Regions from separate parts of the Homo sapiens genome. Here regions 1, 2, 3 and 5 are each linked to region 4. Evidence: fine-mapped expression QTL. A gene starts in region 4. Each other region holds a variant in brackets. All regions are shown on one strand. Distances are from middle to middle.

Evidence for each region. PIP is the estimated chance that this variant, and not a neighbour inherited with it, causes the effect.
Region 1: its variant is the best candidate, but not a certain one, in a credible set for the expression of SYNJ2 in monocytes (Quach 2016, PIP 0.56).
Region 2: its variant is the best candidate, but not a certain one, in a credible set for the expression of SYNJ2 in whole blood (TOPMed, PIP 0.57).
Region 3: its variant is the best candidate, but not a certain one, in a credible set for the expression of SYNJ2 in whole blood (INTERVAL, PIP 0.53).
Region 5: its variant is the best candidate, but not a certain one, in a credible set for the expression of SYNJ2 in whole blood (INTERVAL, PIP 0.56).

Annotation. Positions count from the first base shown.
Region 1 is chr6:158,045,577-158,049,748 of GRCh38, forward strand. The region is part of intron 5 of SYNJ2 (synaptojanin 2); the gene reads left to right. Among named protein-coding and RNA genes, the nearest start is that of SYNJ2-IT1, 47 kb to the left of the region's middle. RefSeq lists an enhancer at 3,890-4,172. The variant C/T (reference allele first, on the strand shown) is at 1,748.
Region 2 is chr6:158,188,901-158,193,072 of GRCh38, forward strand. GTF2H5 (general transcription factor IIH subunit 5) reads left to right here. Exons shown (of 3, transcript NM_207118.3): 3 at 3,077-4,172. The coding sequence ends at 3,257. Among named protein-coding and RNA genes, the nearest start is that of GTF2H5, 23 kb to the left of the region's middle. The variant GATTAA/G (reference allele first, on the strand shown) is at 1,818.
Region 3 is chr6:158,076,970-158,081,141 of GRCh38, forward strand. SYNJ2 (synaptojanin 2) reads left to right here. Exons shown (of 27, transcript NM_003898.4): 18 at 1,195-1,312; 19 at 4,140-4,172. Among named protein-coding and RNA genes, the nearest start is that of SYNJ2-IT1, 78 kb to the left of the region's middle. The variant C/T (reference allele first, on the strand shown) is at 1,583.
Region 4 is chr6:157,980,132-157,984,303 of GRCh38, forward strand. It overlaps SYNJ2 (synaptojanin 2), which reads left to right and starts at 1,732. Exons shown (of 27, transcript NM_003898.4): 1 at 1,732-1,957. The coding sequence starts at 1,831. RefSeq lists enhancers at 968-1,017, 982-1,497, 1,038-1,227, 1,248-1,297, 1,498-2,013 and a silencer at 1,418-1,997.
Region 5 is chr6:158,059,341-158,063,512 of GRCh38, forward strand. SYNJ2 (synaptojanin 2) reads left to right here. Exons shown (of 27, transcript NM_003898.4): 7 at 1-13; 8 at 2,652-2,824. Among named protein-coding and RNA genes, the nearest start is that of SYNJ2-IT1, 60 kb to the left of the region's middle. The variant A/G (reference allele first, on the strand shown) is at 1,622.

The DNA of each region.
Region 1 (4,172 bases), 65 kb after region 4:
GACTCACCCTCAGTCCTTGGAGGGAGTCTTCTGGTTCCCTCTTCTTCTTCTTGTCTTCTCTAAGGCCTCCCAACTCCTTTGGCCACCTTCCCTCCTGTTTCTAAGACTCTCAATGTTCTCATCTCCCTCATCTAAAAAATGACACTCCTTTTTGTCGTTCCCCTCTTGGATTTCATTTTGGTCTTACCTTGACCTTCGTGCTGCCTCAGATGTAGCCTGACCCGCCATGGGATGACTGTGCCTTGGTCTGTCAGGGGCCAGGAGCAGTGGACCACGAGGTCTCAGCTTTTTGGCAGCTGTTTCACCCTCTTAAATTCCTAACATTTGTGCTGCACCAAAGCCTCCATGGTTTCTTCTTTTTGTTTCTTGTTTTGTTTTGTTTTTGAGACGAAGTCTTGCTCTGTCACCCAGGCTGGAGTGCAATGGCACGACCTCGGCTCACTGCAACCTCCACTTCCTGGGTTCAAGAGATTCTCCTGCCTCAGCCTCACAAGTAGCTGGGGTTACAGGCACCCACCACCATGCCTGGCTAATTTTTTTTGTATTTTTAGTAGAGACAGGGTTTCATCACGTTGACCAGGCTGGTTTTGAACTTCTGACCTCAAGTGATCTGCCCGCTTCGGCCTCCCAAAGTGCTAGGATTACAGGCGTGAGCCATCGCGCCCGGCCTCCATGGTTTCTTCAAAACAAGCTTCAGAAGGCTTTAGTGTTCCTTAATCTTATTAAGGATTTGCTAACCTTTGGGCCTAATACCTGTGTTTAGCCTCTAAACACCACTCATCATCAAAGAGAGATGAAGTCATCTTCACAGGGGGCCGGGAGGGCAGCGGGAAGTGGTGGTCTACCGTCACCGGCTTCAACTGTCACTATCAAGCCTAAGGCTGCTTCTAGTTATTTTTCTCCACTTTGAACTTTTTCTCTTCCTTCTTCACTTAGGTTAGATGAAAAGTGCAAAGATTTTGGGGTGAGTAGCTTGCGTATTAAGCTGCAATGCTGTCCCTCCTTGACAGCTGCCGTTGGAAACCCAGGAGCCCAGCAGGATGGGGCAGGGTTGAGCAGAGGGTGGTGGATGAGGATTTGTCTGCATGTTTTCCTGGGTAATGGTACCTTCAGTACTTCCTGACTCCATTTCTAGCAGCCGTGTACCTTTAATAAATTTCATTTTTACGTGTAAATGGGCTGTGCAGTTTATAAATAGCCACATTGAAATTTTACCCTTAAAGCAAATTGCTCCCTGGTCTAGCTAGTTCGAGAATCTATTTATGATCTGTGTCTGTGGTTGACAACGTTGCTCCCCTGGTCATTGTAGAAGCTTCCCCCCACCATATGCTGTATAGACACGTGCCTTGCCAAGGTGAGTTCAGTCTGTCTTTTGAAGTTTCCTGCAACTGAACCAAACGGAGGAGGATGCCGAGTAGAGCAGACCCCTCTTGCCCTGCCTTCACCTCTTTCCTGCCAGAAACCATTCGCCAAGTTTGTGGAGTCGTGGCGCTGGATGGGCTTGTGTGTTTGTACCTTCCTTTTTTCCAAAAAGGACATGAGATGGCTTGTAGTATAACAGTTTCAAAAATAAGTGAAGAGGTCTGGATGAAGGGCAAGAGTCGAATTGGTGCCCACGATGCATGCCGTGGGTCTTGTGTGCGTGGGAAGGAACCTGACGCTTGTTCCAAGCTTCCCCGCAGCCACCACAGAAAGAACCACAGTCACAGCCAGTTTATGACAGTGACTCAGAGCACGAGCTTTGAAG[C/T]GACGCAGACCTGGGCTCAAATTCAAACTCTGGCTCCCCTGCTTTGTAACCATGTGTGTTTGAGAGGCTCTTATCTGTGCCAAGCCTTAGTTTACTTTTCTGTAAAATGGGGCTAACAATATCTACCTTATAGGGTTCTAGAGAGGATTAAAGAGCGTAATATAAGAATTTGGCTGGGCATGGGGGCTCATGCCTGTAATTCCAGCAATTTGGGAGGCCAAGGTGGACAGATCACTTGAGGTCAGGAGTTTAAGACAAGCCTGGCCAACATGGTGAAATCCCATCCCCACTAAAAATGCAAAAATTAGCTAGGCATGGTGTCAGGTTCCTGTAATCCCAGTTATTCAGGAGGCTGAGGCAGGAGAATCACTTGAACCTGGGAGGCGGAGTTTGCAGTGAGCCAAGATTGTGCCACCACACTCTAGCCTGGTCAACAGAGTGCGACTCTGTCAAAAAAAAAAAAAAAAAAAAAAAAAAAAAAACACACAGTATCTAGAATCTAAAAAGTACTCAAAATGGCAGCTGCTATTGATACTAATAGAAACAAATGATAACACCCAGGAGATAAAACCAATGGTGGCATCCGGAGAAGCATGGCTCTTGGTGCCGTGAGCACTGAATGAGAGTTTCCTCCTGTCTTTGTGGGAACAGGGACACCGTGAGATGTAGTAACATGAAGACAGCTTCCTGGTCAGTCTTATCTCTCATCCCTCATAGACTCATCGTAAATCAGTAACCCCAGATGAAGCCATTTATTCATCCCAAACATTCACTGAGCGTCTGCCAGGTGTAGGGGGCACCAGGGATCAGATACAGTCCCTACCTTCAGGGAGCAGGGGGCAGGACAGGGCAGTGTTGTGTGGACAGAGCCGTGTTGGAGGAAGGGAGAGGCCCCGGGGGCAGCTCTCCCAGGCTGAGGGTGTGGGGTGGGCTGCCCAAGGGTCCAGACTGGGGAGGGGTGAGGAAGAAGCACTCAGGCAAGGAAGGCAGCCCTTGCAGAGGGAACAATGGGTGCAGGTGTTGTAACCCTTGGGTTCACAGTGATCAGGGAGCATCACTGGGTAGCTTCTTGAAGTCCTGGGCATGAAGGGAATGGGAGGAGAGATAGGAGAGGTGAGCAGGGCTGGGTCAAGGGCCTGTGGATGCTACACTGAGGAGTTTGCATCCCATACCAGCAGCTACTCAAGCAGTACTCCCCAACCTTGCTGCACAGAAGACTCTGCTGGGGAGCTTGAAAAATCCTGATACCCAGGTTGATACCATACACATTAAGTCACAATATCTGGGGCCGGGAGCCAGGCAGCTGTCCTTTTTGAAGACCCATGGGTGACTCCAGCATGCAGAAAAGTATGGGAACCACTCGGTGCTGTGCTGGCAAGCCAGTTTTATTGGGGTCAGACTGGGTGCAGGGAGCTTTGGTTTGTAGCATTTGTCCATTGCTGTGGTGTAAATTCTCCCATCGTGGCCACTTTCAACCTACGGCTCCACATCACTGAGCTCAGAGTTGGGACCAGCTGGGTGCACCGTCGGCTTGCAAGCCTGCAGGAGCTGGCTCCAGCACACACTGGACACTGCTAAAGGGCTGCAAGAGGTAGAGACACAATTAGACAGAAGTCTAGGCAGTGTTAGTTTGGAGGGGAAAGACACCAGATGGGAGGCCGTTGAGCTGAGATTTTTGGGTAACCTTAAGTCTGGTAGGAGTGGTGGGGTGCAGGGGAGAGGTGTGGAGGTGCTGTCTGCGATCCTTGGGCCTCTTGAGTGCTGATCGAGACTCTGCTGTGACTTCCACAGCCAGGAGTTCTCCAGACCCCGACTATCCTCATGGCTGTCTACCTAACCTCAGTCTCTGGTCTATAGGATTGAACTAATGACTTTAGGGGCCAGATAAGAGTAGCTGGCCCTTTGCCCAGAGGGGAGGAGGACGGGGTGGAGGAGAAGGGAAGCTACAAAATGCAGTGACAGTGGTGGACCCTGCCCTCAGCTGCAGCTCGTGCCTGTGGCTTCTGACACCCAGTGACCTCAGGACTAGGTGACACCAGAGAAGGTGGATGCTGGTCAGTGTTGGAGCAGGACAGAGGGGAGGAAGGATATGAGGCCCAAGGAACCCAGACAAAAGGGATGCACGGGGTGACGGAGGAAGGGTGAGCTCCGGAGAGAACATGAGGCCCAGCTCCCCTCCACTTTTGCCCAAGGCCTCACTGTGTTGCCTTTCCACCTGCCTAAAAGAAGCAGCTTAGGGTCATGACTCAGGGAGAGGCGGTTAGACAAGTCCAATAATACAACTTGTTTAGGGGATGGAGGGACCCAGCCTGAGGCCCTGAGCCCAGGGAAGCAGCTGTGGCAAGCTGAGCCTGGTCATGGTGTCCCTGAGGCTCTGCAGGTATGGACATGCCTCTGCTGGTATGCATGCAGCTCTGCAGGTGGG
Region 2 (4,172 bases), 210 kb after region 4:
ATTTTCATGATCTATGGCCCTGTTCACCATCTCCTACCCACCACCCTCCCCCACCTACCCACCGCAATCCTTTCCACTTTGCCCTCTGGGACATAGTGAGATGGCAGCAGCAGGATGCCCTGTAGCCTCAGCCTCTTCTCTGAACTTTCCTTTTTCCTTCCCCCACCCACCTTTTCCTTTTTTGCTGTGACAAAACCTGACTTTGTCCTGAGCTCACTGCTTCTCCCACCACCTTATCAGGTGGTGCCTTTTTTCCTCTACAAAGGCACCCTCTTGTACCATTGGGTCAGGAAACAGGATCAGTACCTTGCTTATTATTGCCACTTCCAGAAATTCTCCCTCCCTCTTCCATAGAAACCCCCAGTTATCAATCCCAGATCATCAGAGTGGACTACCCACCAACCCTCCTCTTTATAATCATCTACAGACACCCCAATCTGTCCTGAAGGTTTTCCCTTGAAAAAACTATCTTCAGTAGCTCTTCTCTCAAATCCTTAGTGATGTTAGTATCCGTGTGGGTAGTCCTTTAGATACCCTGTTCTCCCAGTTCCCTGGCCTCCTCTTCCACTGAGCTTGTCCTCCACCTCATCACAGCCACTCATTCACATAGTTGTAGCTAGACCTATCCTTCCTTACCCTCGTGCCAGCTCTTCAGTCTCATTTCAGGCATCTGACTCTGACCACCACCTCCTCTTTCCAGTTCACTCCCTCTCATACCTCACTCCATCATTTCTTCAACTTCGCCAGACCTATGGTCTGTTGATATTCCCATCTGTTCAGAGTCCCACACCTCTTCCTAGCTTCCAGTCTACCTTTCTGGTCGTTGTAGCAAAATTTCTCAGTAAAGAGAAGACTTGGTTCTCTTCACTGTCTCTAATTTCTTTCCTCCCATATGAAACCCACTCCAGTCATGCTTTCCCTATTATGACTCCACCAAAACTGCTATTGCCAAGGTCCAGTGACTTTCTGAATCCAGGGATCAATTTTCAGCCCTTGCTATACCCTATAAGCCTTTGACAGAATTGATCACTCCCACTTCCTGAGTAGCCTTTGTTCACATCGCTTTCAGGACTCTTTGGGTTTTCTTTCTACCTCGGTGGTCACTTCTTACTCAGCTTCTTCACTCAGGGGCCAGTAGGCATCTCAAAATATAACATCAAAAACTAAACCTTTTTTTTTTTTAGTAGAGTCAGGGTCTCACTGTGCTGTCCAGGCTAGTCTCTAACTCCTGACCTCAAGCAGTCCTCCAGCCTAGGCCTCTCGAAGTGCTGGGATTACAGCATGAGCCACCATGCCCACCCTAAAACCAAACTTGATCTTACCTGCAGATCTTACACATTCCTCTTTATCTCAGTAAAAATCTCCTCCAGTCTTCCATTTGCTCAGATGAAAAATCTTGGAGTTTTCTTGTTCCTCTTTCTCAAAGCTCATGTCCAGTATTAGCAAATTATGTTGGTTTTATGTCAGTATATATCTAGAATTCAACCACTTCTCATCACCTCCACTATTACCACCTACATCAAAATCATCATCTCTTGCCTGGATGTCACCTCATGGGTCCCCTGCTTCCATCCTTGCCTCTGCCACTCCCAGTCTTTTCTCAACCCAGCAGCCAATATGATCCTTACAGTTAAAATTTAAGTCAGTTTGTAAGTTAAATCATGTCACTTGGTAAAACCCAAAGTCCCCCAAATCAGTTCTGAGGCTCATACTCATCTAGGGATAGAAGTAAATCCCGTGTTAGCATCAGTTAATACCTGTGCTTGTACTTAAATCTTATTTTTCTTGTTTTCAGTAAATTATAGTGACATCTTTTG[GATTAA/G]ATTGTTACCTTTACAATTGATATTGACATTTCTCAAGACACCAAAAGATTATATGAGATTTTTTTCTCAAGAATTGCAAAAATCTGTGGTGCAGCTTGACATTTTTATATTCATTTTTTGCTAAACACATTGTGTATTAGATCTAAAGAGTGTCCTTTGTCATGATTCAAGGTTTTTATGAAAGAGACATTTTGCTGTAAATCTGTACTGCCCGAGAAGAAATTGTATCCCTCTTTTCCCTTATGACTATCCTATTCTTTCCAAACCAAAAACCACAAGTTAATAAAATTGAATTTGGACCTCTTTCCTTGAATGCCTATTACAAGCCAAGCACTGTCCTTGACATTATCTCCTTTAATTTCCGTAAACAATTCTGTTATGTAGCCTCACTTTTGAGGTTGGGAACAGAGGCTCTGGGAGATTAAGTACCTATTCTATTCAAGGTCACACAAGTAAGTGATGAAGCTGGGGTTGAATCCAGGTATGACTCTTGATATACACCCTGCCTGACCAAAGTGACTGTTTAACTGGTTTTGTAAGTTAATTTGTCACTGGTAAAACATTGAACACCTACTGGTTCCTTAGATGTAATGGGCATAGACAAGGAAGAAATTCAGTGTTTAAATCAGTTAAGAAAGCTGTGATTCTAGGCCCTACTAACTACAAAGCTTTCAATATTCTTTTATTTTTTCCACTTAGTGACAAATTATTCTTTAAAAATCTTGCCATTGGCCTCTGCCTCTTCAACTTACACTAATAGTTCTTTTTTTTTTTTTTGAGACAGAGTCTCGCTCTGTCGCCCAGGCTGGAGTGCAGTGGCACGATCTCCGCTCACTGCAAGCTCTGCCTCCCAGGTTCACACCATTCTCCTGCCTCAGCCTCCCAAGTAGCTGGGACTACAGGCACCCGCCACCACACCCGGCTAATTTTTTGTATTTTTAGTAGAGACGGGGTTTCACCGTGTTAGCCAGGATGGTCTCGATCTCCTGACCTGGTGATCCACCCACCTCGGCCTCCCAAAGTGCTGGGATCACAGGTGTGAGCCATCGCACCCGGCCAACTTACACTAATAGTTCTAAAATGAAGCCATGTCTATAAATTGTTAACACTTGAGGCAGAGAGGAAGTGAGGGATTGAGTAACAGAACTTTAAAAATCATTCTAAAAATTCTACATGTTCACATTTAATTGCTCAAGTCTCTGTGATGTGATTTGACAACAAGCTGTCTTACAATCATGTGTTTGTCTTTACAGTGATCCTGCCATGAAGCAGTTTCTGCTGTACTTGGATGAGTCCAATGCCCTGGGGAAGAAGTTCATCATTCAAGACATTGATGACACTCACGTCTTTGTAATAGCAGAATTGGTTAATGTCCTCCAGGAGCGAGTGGGTGAATTAATGGACCAAAATGCTTTTTCCCTTACCCAGAAATGAAAATACTCAATATGGACCATTTAGGAATTATAAGCAGCAACTGTGAAAGACTTGCCACTCAATATCTTAGGTGACTGATTAGACATAGAGGGTTGTTTTAGGAGCATGCCACGGGAAAGACTGAGGGATCATGATCATTTGTTCAGAAAAAAAGCCCCTGAACTGATTTTGTTACCATAGAATTTAAAAAAAAAAAAAGCTTTAACAGTTGGCTGTAATTTGGCTTTTATTATCCTTTATTAAAATACAAATGTCAATGCTTTTCCTGCCTTTTTAATACCATGTCAGTGTAACATAGGTATTTATTTTGCTCATCCCTGTGATCTGTGCATTTTTGCTGCGTGGATGTGATTGTTTGGTTTCAGTTAGAAACGTCATAGATTTGCTGTTTGAATATGCCAAGGTGGGGACTTAGACATTATGTACGTCTCACAAATCCTACCTGCATACCAGTCAGCTCTATTGAGGAAGACAATGTAAAACTAATGTAAACTACAGTTTGCATTTCCCTGAAAACAGAATATTGTTTTTAAGAGGGTTAGAAACAACCAGTGGGAAAGGCACATGCTGCTTTGTTTAGTTTTTCCTTGTTCAAACTTTGTTGGTCACATTTTCCCATCTGTATTCTTTTTTATTAAGAAAACAGCTTAGGGAGGCTGAGGTGGGAGGATTGCTTGAGCCCAGGAGTCCGAGGTTGCTACAAAAACACCATTGCACTCTGGCCTGGACAACAGAGAGACCCTGCCTCAAAAAAAAAAAAAAAAAAAAAAAAAATTCTACTTGTACCTTATTCCCTATGAGAATACTTATCAAACTTATCTAAAAAAGAAAAATAGGAACAGCCATATGCAAAGTCAGCCCAACAGGAAAGGACATATTAGATTAAAATACATTGCGGCCTGGGCTTAGTGGCTC
Region 3 (4,172 bases), 97 kb after region 4:
CTTCTGGCCTCTTTTTTTCCCTTTTCTTTTCTTTTTTTTTTTTGAGACAGAGTTTCACTCTTGTTGCCTAGGCTGGAGTGCAATGGCGTGATCTTGGCTCACCACAACCTCCACCTCCTGGGTTCAAGCCATTCTCCTGCCTCAGCCTCCTGAGTGCTGGGATTACAGGCATGCACCACCATGCCCAGCTAATTTTGTATTTTTAGTAGAGACGGGGTTTCTCCATGTTGGTCAGGCTGGTCTTGAACTCCCAACCTCAGGTGATCTGCCCACCTCGGCCTCCCAAAGTGCTGGGATTACAGGCATAAGCCACTGCGCCTGGCCTCCTCTGGTCTCTTTCTAGAGACAGTGACCTGCAAATAGGTCTGCTCCTGGCTGCCCCTGCATCACAGCTCCCCCCCACACCCCCACCTCTTTTTTCTGGGTGGGGAAAGCGGGGAGCATGAGGTTGCCTCCCTCCCTGCCCCCCATGCTCCCCCTCATGTTCTTTATCCAGCCTATTTTGTTCAGCTACACTTTTACCTGCTTAAAGCCCTAATTCCAAATTGGACACGAGCAAGACACAGTAAAAATAAGTTAGTTTTTAAAAATCATTAGTTGTCAAGTATGTTTTGAACAACTGTTGATGCCCAGCTAGGAAGTGAAGTTTATTTAAAGTTAGAATATCTGTAACTAGTACATAAAAAAAAAAAAAAAAAAAAAAAAAAAAACCTAATTACACATTTTGGGAGAGCATAGCCAGGAAATTGCATCTGTGAAAAGAAAATACAAATTTTCCTCTAGATGAGTTTGTGAACGCCTGTGTGGCCCCAGCGCTCTGAGAGGTGGGGCCTAGAATGAGTCCGAGTGTTCTCAGCTCCTGCAGCTCTTACCATACCAATTGCTGCCAACCTTCTGGGATTCCTGGGTCCTGGAAACCCGGCAGCAACACTGTGTCTCAAGCCTACAGTGGGCATGCTGGCGAGGACTGCAGGCATGGTCATGACTGTTTTGAATAATTATATGCGAGGAATGTTTTTAACCAAAGGCCCCAAAGCATCCGAAGCCTGGCTTCAAGGTGGAGGAGTAAGGAGGATGAGTCTGGGACGTGGGGTGGTTCGTGGCGCAGACCTCTATTGTGGAAGTGTCATGATCGCATTCTTGGATATTGACTCGATTCTATATGGGTCTCTCGAATGGAACCCCTGCGAGTAGCTGGAGAACTCAACCTTCTAGACAGTGATCTAGATGTTGACACCAAAGTCAGACACACCTGGTCTCCTGGTGCCCTGCAGTATTATGGTCGTGCGGAGCTACAAGCGTCTGATCACAGGTGAGGTCCTGACTTCCATGGCGTTTTCTCCTGTGCTGGGCAAGGCAGCGTCTCCCTCTCCGCAGGAAAATGCATGCTGTCCCCATAAGGATGTGTGTGCGCATGGGGGTGCATTTTGTGTGCATACAATACACCAAAGAACAAAGAATGATGGAACAAATATCTGTGGACCCACCACCAAGAACTAATTAATCTTAGCATTTTGTCATTGCTCCATATCATAAATGACATCATTGATGAAAATTTCAAAGATGCAACCTACGTATTTTG[C/T]GGCTTTTATATTTTCTTAAATGATGTCGTTGTGCAACTTGCTTTTTTGTTACTATTTTTGAGATACAGTCGTGTTGATGTTATAGCTCTGGTGCATTCATTTGTAACTGCTGTCTAGTATCCCACTAAATATATCCATGGAACTTACAACTTATCCATTCACCTCTTGATGAATATTTTCTCCAGGATTTTATGATTACAAACACCATAGGGTTTTTAAATCTGGGATGCACAACCTTTTTTTTTTTTTTTTTTTTGAGAGAGAGTCTTGCTCTATTGCCCAGGCTGGATGGAGTACAGTGGTGTGATCTCAGCTCACTGCAACCTCCGCTTCCCAGATTCAAGCAATTCTCCTGCCTCAGCCTCCCAAGTAGCTGGGATTACAGGTGCACACCACCATGCCTGGCTAATTTTTGTGTTTTTAGTAGAGACGGGGTTTCACCATGTTGGCCAGGCTGGTCCCAAACTCCTGACCTCAGGTGATCCACCCACCTTGGCCTCTCAAAGTGTTGGGATTACAGGCGTGAGCCACCGCACCTGGCCCTAGGATGCAGGGCTTTTTAAATGCTCTGTGCATCATGCATTGAGGATAGAGTGGAGGCAGCAGAGGGAGCACCGTGGGCACCAGCACCTGTGCCCTGGGATTGCTGCAGAGGAAGACTCACCCTGCAGAATGTCTTTAAAGACAGAGGAGAGGATGGCATTTGAGGGTGTGAAGAAGGAAGAGTTTGATCTTCCCAAGGCTGCTGCCTAAACTCTCATGTCAGTTTCAACTTTTACAAGGAAAGAAATTAAGAAAAAGAAGGTAAGAACAGTTGGTCAACGAAAAAACCTTTTTTTTTTTTTTTTGAGACAGAGTCCTCCAGGCTGGAGTGCAGTGGCACAATCTTGGCTCATTGCAACCTCCACCCCCAGGGTATAAGTGATTTTCATGTCTCAGCCTCCCAAGTAGCTGGGATTACAGGCGTGCATCACCATGCCCGGCTGATTTTTGTATTTTTAGTAGAAACGGTTTTGCCATGTTAGCCAGGCTGGTCTCCAACTCCTGGCCTCCAGTGATGTGCCCGCCTCAGCCTCCCAAAGTACTGGGATTACAGCCACCATGCCCAGACTCTTTAGATAATTCTAAATTCTTTAGATACCTGTTGTTGCAAATACATACCTAGAAGTGAATCTTGAGGAATCTTCAGATATGTGACATCAAGGTTTGCTAGCTCAATGTATTTTGAAACCTTAATTTAACCAATATTTCTTGAGGGGCCCTTACATGCCAGGCCCTGTTGCTGGCCTGGAGAAAAGCAGTGAACAAAACAGATGAGACCATGTTATCATGGAATTTTCTGGACAGGACAAACAGACAATAAACAAACATGTGTGCTATGAAAGAAAAAAAGTAGTGGCAGGAGTCAGGCCAGAGTCGAGCTATTTTCAATCAGGCTGTGTAATTTTCGTAATATAGGATTTTCTGGAAATTTATAGAGTAATAACCATCCCTGTGTCAGAATTACTATAAGGATTGCATTATTTCCTGCTGGACTGTTTTCCTGTTTACATCATTGATTTTTACATTATTCCTAATGATTGCGTAGGGTATTATATGAAGGTATCATAACTGTTTCCCCATTAAGAAACAGAGCATTTTGGCCTGGCGCAGTGGCTCACGCCTTTATCCCAGCACTTTGGGAGGCTGAGGCAGGCGGATCACCTAAAGTCAGGAGTTCAAGACCAGCCTAGCCAACACAGCAAAACCCCATCTCTACCAAAAATACAAAAATTAGCTGGTCATGGTGGCATGCGCCTGTAATCCCAGCTACTTGGGAAGCTGAGGCAGGAGAATCACTTGAGCCCGGGAGGCGGAGGTTGCAGTGGGCTGAGATCGCGCCACTGCACTCCAGCCTGGACAACAGAGGGAGACTCTGACTCAAAATAAAAAAAAAAAAAAAAACGAGCATTTCCCTTTTTTTTTTTCCCTCCCATCAACAATGCTGTAAATGATCAACCTCATGCATTAAATCTTTGTCTGAATCCCTGGTCATTTCCTTAGAATAAAGTCCGAGAAGTGAGATTACTAGGTGAAAAGAGATGAACAATTTTGGAACTCTATGTAAAGTGCCAAGTAACCCTCTGAAAAGCTTGCACCCCTGGCAGAGTGCAGATGTCTGCTTCCCCACCTCCTTGGTGGTACTGAGGATTACCATGTCAAAAATCTTTGCTGATGGCTGGTTATTTTCCAAGTACTGGGATACATCTTTAAGGTGCCACACTTTATTTTCCCCCTCAAATCATCTTTAGATAAAAATGCCAAGGTGATACTAAGGTTAAGGAAAGATGAAGACTAAAACGCCAGAGCAGGGCAGCTAGCCTGCAAATCCACCTGCTGGTGGCCACATTCGCAGGTTGTTGGTGTTGACTGTTTACAAAGAGCCCTGGGGGACAGCAGCTGGGGACTGGGGGCTGGAGATGTGGACATCTGTCCCAGGCTAACTGGGGACTGGAGGCCGGGGGTGTGGACATCTGTCCCAGGCTAACTGTCATCCCTCTTTTGTTCCTAACGCAGACCTGTGCTGGCGATCGTGGAGGTGGAAGTTCA
Region 4 (4,172 bases):
AGTTGATGGTGACTTGGATTCTATAAGCTGTGAGGCTCAACTGCTGGTCCTGACTGCAGGAAAATTTCTAAAATAGGTATGGCATGCCACTGTGCAGGACTTTAGACTATATGATGCTAGTTAGGAAAGAGGAGAGAGAGATAAATGGAAGACTGGGTCCCCTCCCTAAGGCCTTACCACTCAATTTGCAAAACAGGGCTAAGAGAAAACATAAAAACACTTCTCAAGCAACATATGAGTAGGTGAGAACTGAAGTCTGTAAATCTGGGTGTTATATAAGCACTATTATCTGGGACCTCAGCATTCCAGGAAAGCTTCCTGGAAGAAGTGAGTTTCAGGTCAAAAAGTGGGCCAAAGGCTGATCTGCCTCACTGAATGGGCACACTGTTTTCATGAGGTAGTAATGTTTCCATCTACACAGAAAGAAGCTGCTCGGACAGCTGATGAGCATCATGCCTGGGATATTGAGCACATCATGCTTGACCTGGGCAGAGTTTGTGGGCAAGGAAAGGGGCTAAGGGTCAAGATAATCTCTGCTGGGGTTGTTCAAATTTATTACCCAACCATCACCTGAGAGGTTGTCCCCTGAGGATGGCTTGTCTGGTCATTACTGAATGTCTGCAGGGGCATGGCAGTGTTCTGCTTGGCTCTGGGGGCTCTGCCCTTTCTAGGACAAGTCCCAGAGACAAACAGCTTGGCCCAGTACAGCAGAATGGGGTGAGAGAGGAACTGAGTTCGTTTGCGGGCAGGATGGAAACAGCTGATGGAGGCTTCTCGGGCCATCCTCACGTACCCATCACAAGCGAAGGGAATTAAGCCGCCAAACCACCCCAAAGAGTGACTCCAACTCAGCCCTAAACACCCATACCCACCCCACCTCCCCTGCAGCTCTGACAGGCCAAGCCTGGGCGCTAGAACCCCGCGCCAGAAGGCCGGGCCACACACTCCAGCGTACACGCGCGGACACGTGCCGGTGTCCAGAGCCGGTGGGAGAGGCGCTGTCACCATCTGACAGGAGAGGAAGGTGGAGCGCAGAGAAGTCAGGGTCACGTGGTAAGTGGGGGTCGTGGTCTGGGGATCACGGCTCCAGGTCTCTTCGCGACAACGCACCGTTGACCCCCAACACCTCTCCCTGGCGGGGTCGGTGACCGCAACAGCCTCCGGGATAGAACGCTAGTGAAAGGTAACCTTTCTCCAGCCCGCTCCACGCGCTCCGCACCCGCTAAGCGCCTCCGCGAATTAACTCAGGCCTCCGCGCCGAAGTAGGCGCAGTTATGACCCCGCTTCCCCGCAGGGAGACCGAGGCACGCAGGGTCGAAAGGACTCGTCCAGGGTCGCAGGAGCCGACCACACAGGGAGGCGCAGCGCCCCCGGCGGGAACAGTCAGCGGGTCCAGCCTGGCGGACTCCCGGGCCGGGCTGCCCATATAAGGCTGCGGGCGGCCGGCATCGCAGCCAGGCTCCCGGGGTCGCCCCGCGCGGGGCATCCTCCTCCGCAGCGAGGAATGCGTGGCATCCGGGAGGCTCTTCCGCTCCACGCCCGCCTGCGGGGAGCCTCAGCCCCGGGGCGCGGCCTCGCGCAGCTGCCTGGCCGCTGGGGGGAGCGCGGGGCCGGGCGGGAGGCGGCGGCGCGCCCTCACCTGCCCCAGGCTGGGGAGGCGCGAGTGGGGAGGAGGAGGAAGGGGAGGAGGCCGGGGAGGAGCCTGGCGCGGCGGGAGCGGCGGCGCAAAGTGAAACTCTGGCAAGTTGCGGGCGCGCGGGGAGCTGTCGCGGGCAGCGCGCCCTCGGGAGGACGTGGCCCCGGCCCCCGCCCGCAGTGGGCCCGACCCTCATGGCCCTGAGCAAAGGGCTGCGGCTGCTGGGGCGCCTGGGGGCCGAGGGGGACTGTAGCGTGCTGCTGGAGGCGCGCGGCCGCGACGACTGCCTGCTGTTCGAGGCCGGCACGGTGGCCACGCTGGGTGAGTCCGGGCCGGGGGCAGCGACGCCCGGAGGAGAGGGCGCCCGCATTCGCCCAGCCTCGGGAAGACGGGTACCCCCCCTTCCCGAGGGGATCGGGCGGCGCTGGGACTGCCGGGGCGTAGGGGTCGCGCGCAGAGGGGTGGCTGTTTGAATGAAGTGGGGCTGGGGACTCGAGAGAGCACTCTGGCTGGGCCGGTGGCGCACGGAGGCCGGCCGCCCCTCCACGGGGATCTCCGGCCCGCGCCGCCAGAGGATATGGTTGCTGGATAGCCGGCTGGGGCGCTTTGCGTATTCATGAGGATCCCGGGGTGTTGACTTAGCCGGCCTGACCCTGTGCCTGGCGCCTTTTCTTTTGCACCTGTTGATGAAACCAGTGATTGCCCTTTGGTTTGTGTTGGCGGCTCCACTCCTGGAGGGGATGGGGACAAAAGCCCCAAAACATAGGCTCTGGAGAAACCGCTGATGGCAGCTTTGTCCCACGTAAATACTTGGTCGAGAAGCATCGGTGCTGCAATTTATAGAACTTGTAAACAAATATACCATGACCTTTATGCTGTCTTAGATCCTGCCAAGCCAGCGAATTTCACCTATGGACTTCAGAAGCCTTGAAACTGGCATTGTGCTATGGGCTTTAGTACGTGATCTCACTTAATTCTCACAATTCTACTAAAAAGCTATTATTATCCCCATTTTGCAGATGAGCAAACTGAGGCCTAAAGAGGCTAAGTTGCTTGCCAAGGTGACACCATCCACCTGACTTTTATGTGGCTGTTTCTGTAATGTCATTCAATGCGTGGCTTCCTGGTATCGCTAACCTGGGTCCCTTGTTTTGTGCTAACCATTATAAGGAAAACCTGGGTAGCACCAAAGCACGTGAAACCAGGTCTGATTGTTAGACTTCTAAATGTGGACACCCGAGAGTAAGCTCCCACCACTAGGCGTCCAGCTGTAACAGCTTGCCGGTATTCCTAGCTAAACAAGGTGCAGCCCGGGGTCACTCGTACTTGAGGTGGTCGGCAAATGCAGCAGGCTGCTTTGTAGATGCCTCTAGCCTTCTTTTCACATTTGTATGCATCGACTCCCGTTCGGATGTATGTCTTGGAAGGACTATCTCTCCTATTTCTGATTCCCTAATCATTTCATTAACATGCATTTATCCAGCTTGTTCTCAGTCACTTGATTACTGAAACAATGTCTCCAGTAGTCTCAGCATCAAAAGTAGGCAGTGAATTGTAGATTAAGTTATTTTCAGATTATTCTAATTTGTGCTGTCCTGAAGAGTCTAAGTTTGGTTATTTGGTGTGGCCTTGAAAGAAAACCACAGAAATTTCCATTCCATTTTAGATGTCTACTTCATACCACATTTATCGGAAGCGAAAGAGTAATTTCATGGTACAAAACTACTGTTTCATCAAATAGATTAAGATGTCCTTCAGTTGGATTACGGCAACATTAAGCCAAGTTCATACACATTCAAGAATTCTTTGAAGCAGCTTAGAAAAAAGAGATTTTATTTTTTCAAAAGTGAAGATTTAAAAATGATTAATGACAGTAATGTAGTGCATATTTTCCATTAGGAGCTGAAGTTTGGGCTGAGATTTACATCACGGTGGTGATTACAGTATACCAGATTTTAGAACAGAGAATGTAAGAAAGGAATTGGCTCGTCTTCAACTCATGTGCAGTCCACATTTGTCATTTAACCTAGCATTCATTTTTCAGTAGAAAACTTTAAAAAAAAATTTTTTTTTTTTTTGAAACAGAGGCTTCTTCTGTTGCCTAGGCTGGCATGCAGTGGCACAGTCACAGCCCACTGCAGCCTCAACTTCCCAGGCTCAAGCGATCCTCCTGCCTCAGCCTCCTGAGTAGCTGGGACTATAGGCACATGCCACCATGCCTGGCTAATTTTTTCTCTTTCTTTTCTTTTCTTTAAATGGGGTCTTACTATGTTGCCCATGCTGTTCTCGAACTCCTGGGCTCAGGTGATCTTTCCGCCTTGGTCTCCCAAAGCGTTGGGATTACAGGCATGAACTACTTACTGCGTCTGGCCTGAAAACTTAATTTTTTAAAGTCTGTTTTGTTTAAGTAAAATGAAACTATTTTTAAAAAGCAGCTGTAGCATTTGGTGGCTTTGCTGGTCCAGAGAATGTTTGTAGGAGAGAGCCTTATGTTACTAGAAAGTTGTTTAAAACTTTCAACATATCCTAAATGCAT
Region 5 (4,172 bases), 79 kb after region 4:
CAGAGCCTTCAAGGTAAGGCCAGGCTGTCCTCTCCACAGCTGGGCTGGGCGGCAGGTGGCCATGGTGGAGCGTTGAGCCTGGAGGTGGCTCCTGCAGGGACTGGAGCTGACAGCCCAGCCCTCCTTCGTTTCCTGAGGCTTCCCCAGCATTCCGACCAGTGAACACGGCAGTGCTCAGTGACTCGGGCCCTGATACAGTGAGTGTAATTTCTTTTCTTTTTTTTTTTTTTTAAGACAGAGTTTGGCTCTTGTCGCTCAGGCTGGAGTGCAGTGGTGCAATCTCAGCTCACTGCAACCTCTGCCTCCCAGGTACAAGCGATTCTCCTCCCTCAGCCTCCCAAGTAGCTGGGATTACAGGCACTTGCCACCACGCCTGGCTAATTTTTGTATTTTTAGTAGAGACGGGGTTTCACCATGTTGTTCAGGTTGGTCAAGAACTCCTGACCTCAGGTGATCCACCCGCCTCGGCCTCCCAAAGTGCTGGGATTGCAGGCGTGAGCCACCGCGCCCGGCCTAGTGAGTGTAATTTCTGTGAGCTGATGGTTGGGAGAATTTGCTCAAAGTCAAAACAGAGCATCTCCTGTCCCCAGCCATGTGTCCCTTACCCTCCCTCCCCATGGGGCTTTGAGGGCTTCTGACCTCTCAAGGTACCCCTCTCAGTCCAGCCCAGGAGCAGGCAGGCCTCCCTTTCTGCCCTGGCTGGTCCTGGGTGAGTTCCCCCAGCCCCACAGGGCACCCGGCCTCAGGGCTCAGGAGCAGGAACTTCGGTGGCTTTCCCCTGCTTGCCGGCTGGCCTTCAAATTTCCCCCTCTTCCTCGGGCTTTCATGGCAGCTCCTGGACCTGCTGCTGCTGGGCTCCTGTGGGCTCCTTCAGACTTCCTTGGGGGGCTTTTCCTGGCGATCCTGGACAGATCCTGGGCAGGGTCACAGAGCCATGGGAGCAAGAGACTCCGCCCACCTGGCCAGGTTCCATCCCTGTGCATGGATCCCAGGCCTCCAGCCCCCGCCCCCTGCTCCCCAGGCGCAAGACGTTCCAGAATGAGCCAAGGGGGCTCCTGGTTCCTTTACCAGCCTCCATGTCCCCTGCCTAATAGAGAAAAACTCTCTCGTTGTTTAAAGCTCAAAGATATCCCTTACAGAGAGAGCTCGAAGTCGCCTCACTGGGGGTTAGGGCGATCTCTGAGCCTTTCCCTCTGCTTAGAAATGCCACATGCTCATGCTCAGAGCAGGCACTTCCTGGTTGCCAATTTTATTTGGCCAGACCTGCTTTTCCTGTTTGGTTTGTTGCTATTAGCAACGAGCTCCAGAAGTGTCTCCCTTCCCACCCATCTTGGCAGTGATGCTGGCTGCTAATTTGAAGGAAGAAGGGAAAAAGCTAAAAAATAAGAATAATAATAAGAACCCCAAGTCCTTTTCCCCTATGCCTTGAGTTGTGGCCCCTCCCATCAGTGGGTGAAGTGCCCGGCACTGGTGAGGGCGGGAGATGGCAGCCACCTCATGCGGAGAAGGGTGGGCTCCTGGCCAGGTAGGGAGGGGCACTCTAGCTGAAGACCTGGGTCATGGCCCTGCCTGGGGTGGCCCTCAGCCACCTCAGCTTGGCCCAGACCAAGGTTGGTGGCCC[A/G]GCAGCCTGCCCAGGGCCCAATGGCCATCAGTCCTGCTGGATGAAGCACTGGCTGTGGAATGCATGGCACTGAGCCACCAGGCACTGTTGGGCTCCTCCAGCTTCTTGCTCACAGCAAGACTTGCTTGATGATGGCAGCACTGCATTGATTTACACTCAGACCTATCACAGGCAGTCACGTTGAGTCAGATCAGATGACCCCCAAGTCCTTCTAGTCCTTCCAAGTCACTAGGACCTCTGGCTGGGCAGAGGCTGGACTGGCCTGACCTGAAGCCACAAGGGCATGAGTGCAGGGTGAGAGGCCTGGAAGCCGGGTGGCCTGGGTAGGCGGACAGTTTGTCCTTCATCACGGGGCTCTCTGGGGAGAAAGCCAGGGAGCTGCCAGGCCAGGGAAGCCTCATATGGAAGGGAGGGCTCTTAAGGGCATCCTGGTGCCATCAGCAGCCCCTTGACCTGCTTCCCATCTCTCCCCACCTTCACTCTGGCTCCCTGACCATCCTGAAGTAGCATCGGGATGTGGGACCCACCTGGGCCACTTCAGCTGGAGACTTGGTCTCTTCAGAGCATAACCACCAGAGGCTGGTGCGCGGCAGGATGGGGCCGGTTACTAGGGCAACGGGGAGCTGGATTATGAGCTCTGCAGCCTGCCACAGCACTGCTATCTCTGAGGGCCTGGGGCACCTGGGCCACCTGAAGAACAGAGCAGTCCTTCCTCACCTGTGCCCTCCAGAGAGCCCTGCAGGAGTATGATCTCTCCAGGAAGCCACACCTGCTCTGGCTTCTTTTGCTCAAGGGGGACCTTCTGCCCTTTCGCAGGCAAGACGCTCTTTGTGGGTTTTGTCCCCCCAGGGCCTTTGTCCTGTGCTTCCCTTTTGGGGTCAACTGCCTGGTCCACTGTGAGCTTCCAGCTAAAGCACGTCCTGCGGCGAGTCACCTTGGTTAGCCGCACGGGTCAAGCTCTGCAAGGAGCTTGCCCTCCTCGTCCTCCCTTCCCTCTGCTCCCCTCACCGCCCTCCCCTCCTCTTTTCAGAAGCTGCTCTGGGCTTCTTGCCACGCGGGCGACACGCCTATGATCAATTTTGACTTCCATCAGTTTGCCAAAGGTGGGAAGCTAGAGAAATTGGAGACCCTCTTGAGGCCACAGTTAAAGCTGCACTGGGAAGACTTCGATGTGTTCACAAAGGGGGAGAACGTCAGTCCACGGTGAGGCTCGCTGCGCACTGTGCCGCGTCTTCTGCTGGGGGGAAGCGTCAGTCCACGGTGAGGCTCGCTGCGTGCTGTGCCTTCTGCTGGGTGAGGCGGCAGAGGGGCCGTGCAGTCTAGGACATGTGCCCTATGAGGGGCAGCTTCCTTCCCTCCCCACTCAGTTACCCTTGTGGTTTCCTGGGTCATAAGCTTGGCGACGCCGGGAATCTTGGGTTCCAGCTTCTCATCTCCCTTCCCACAGTAGGAGACAGGCTTTTGAATTTCTCAAGGAGATGTTGAGTCATGGTTTTCTGGCAAAAGAAATGAACTAATAAAGGGGACTGCATTAAAACATGGAGCTCCACGCTGTGACGCAGGCCTGTGAGAGTGAGGGCCACAGTCGCGGTGGGATGGCTGGCATAGACTTAGATTGCTAGAGGAGACCAGGGTATGGACTTCCCTGTTCAGAGCAGAGGAGAAAAACGAAGTCCAGTTCCCTCAGGTCACATGCAGGGGGTCCTCATTATTTGCAGATTCCATATTGGCTTATTTACCTATTCCTTAAAACTGATTTGTAACCCCAAAATCAGTATGCAAAGCATTTTTGCTGGACAGAGTATTTAAATACTCTGGCCTCGTATTTAAACAAGTTTCCTTTTTAAGATTTAGTACCATGTTTTTCACATTTGTGGGGTCTTTGTTAGGGGCCCCCCTTTGTTCGGGGATCTCATGGTTTAGAATGGCCCCAAGCAGTGTGCCGAAGAGCTGTCTAGTACTTCTGAGCACAAGAAGGTGGTGATGTGCTTTATGGAGAAAATGCACGTTAAGATAAGCTTTGTCCCTATATGAGCTACAGTGCTGTCGGCCATGGTTCAGTGTTAATTAAGCAAATATATATATTCAATAAGGTGTCTTTATATGGAAACATACATAAAACAAGGTTGTATATTGATCAGTTGATAAAAATGTGACCAGAGGTTTGCAGGAACCTAACCCTATATTTCCCCTAGGAGCGATGGTTCTGTGTTCATGTCCAATTCAGTGTTCCTACAACTTTATAGAACATAATTGCTATAAATAACAAGGACCAGCTAAACGTAAAACGACCCAGCTGTGCAGGCTACTGAGTGTGTGTCCTGGGGTCTGCCTGCCTTTCCAGAAGTGCTGGGGATCCACTGGGATGGACACTGGGGTTTCTGGGGGGCTATTGATGAGGAGGTGAGGGGTTCCCTCTTAGAACATGTTTCCTCACACCTGTAATCCCAGCACTTTGGAAGGCTGAGGTGGGCGGATCACAAGGTCAGGAGTTCGAGACTAGCCTGGCCAATGTGGTGAAACACCGTCTGTACTAAAAATACAAAAATTA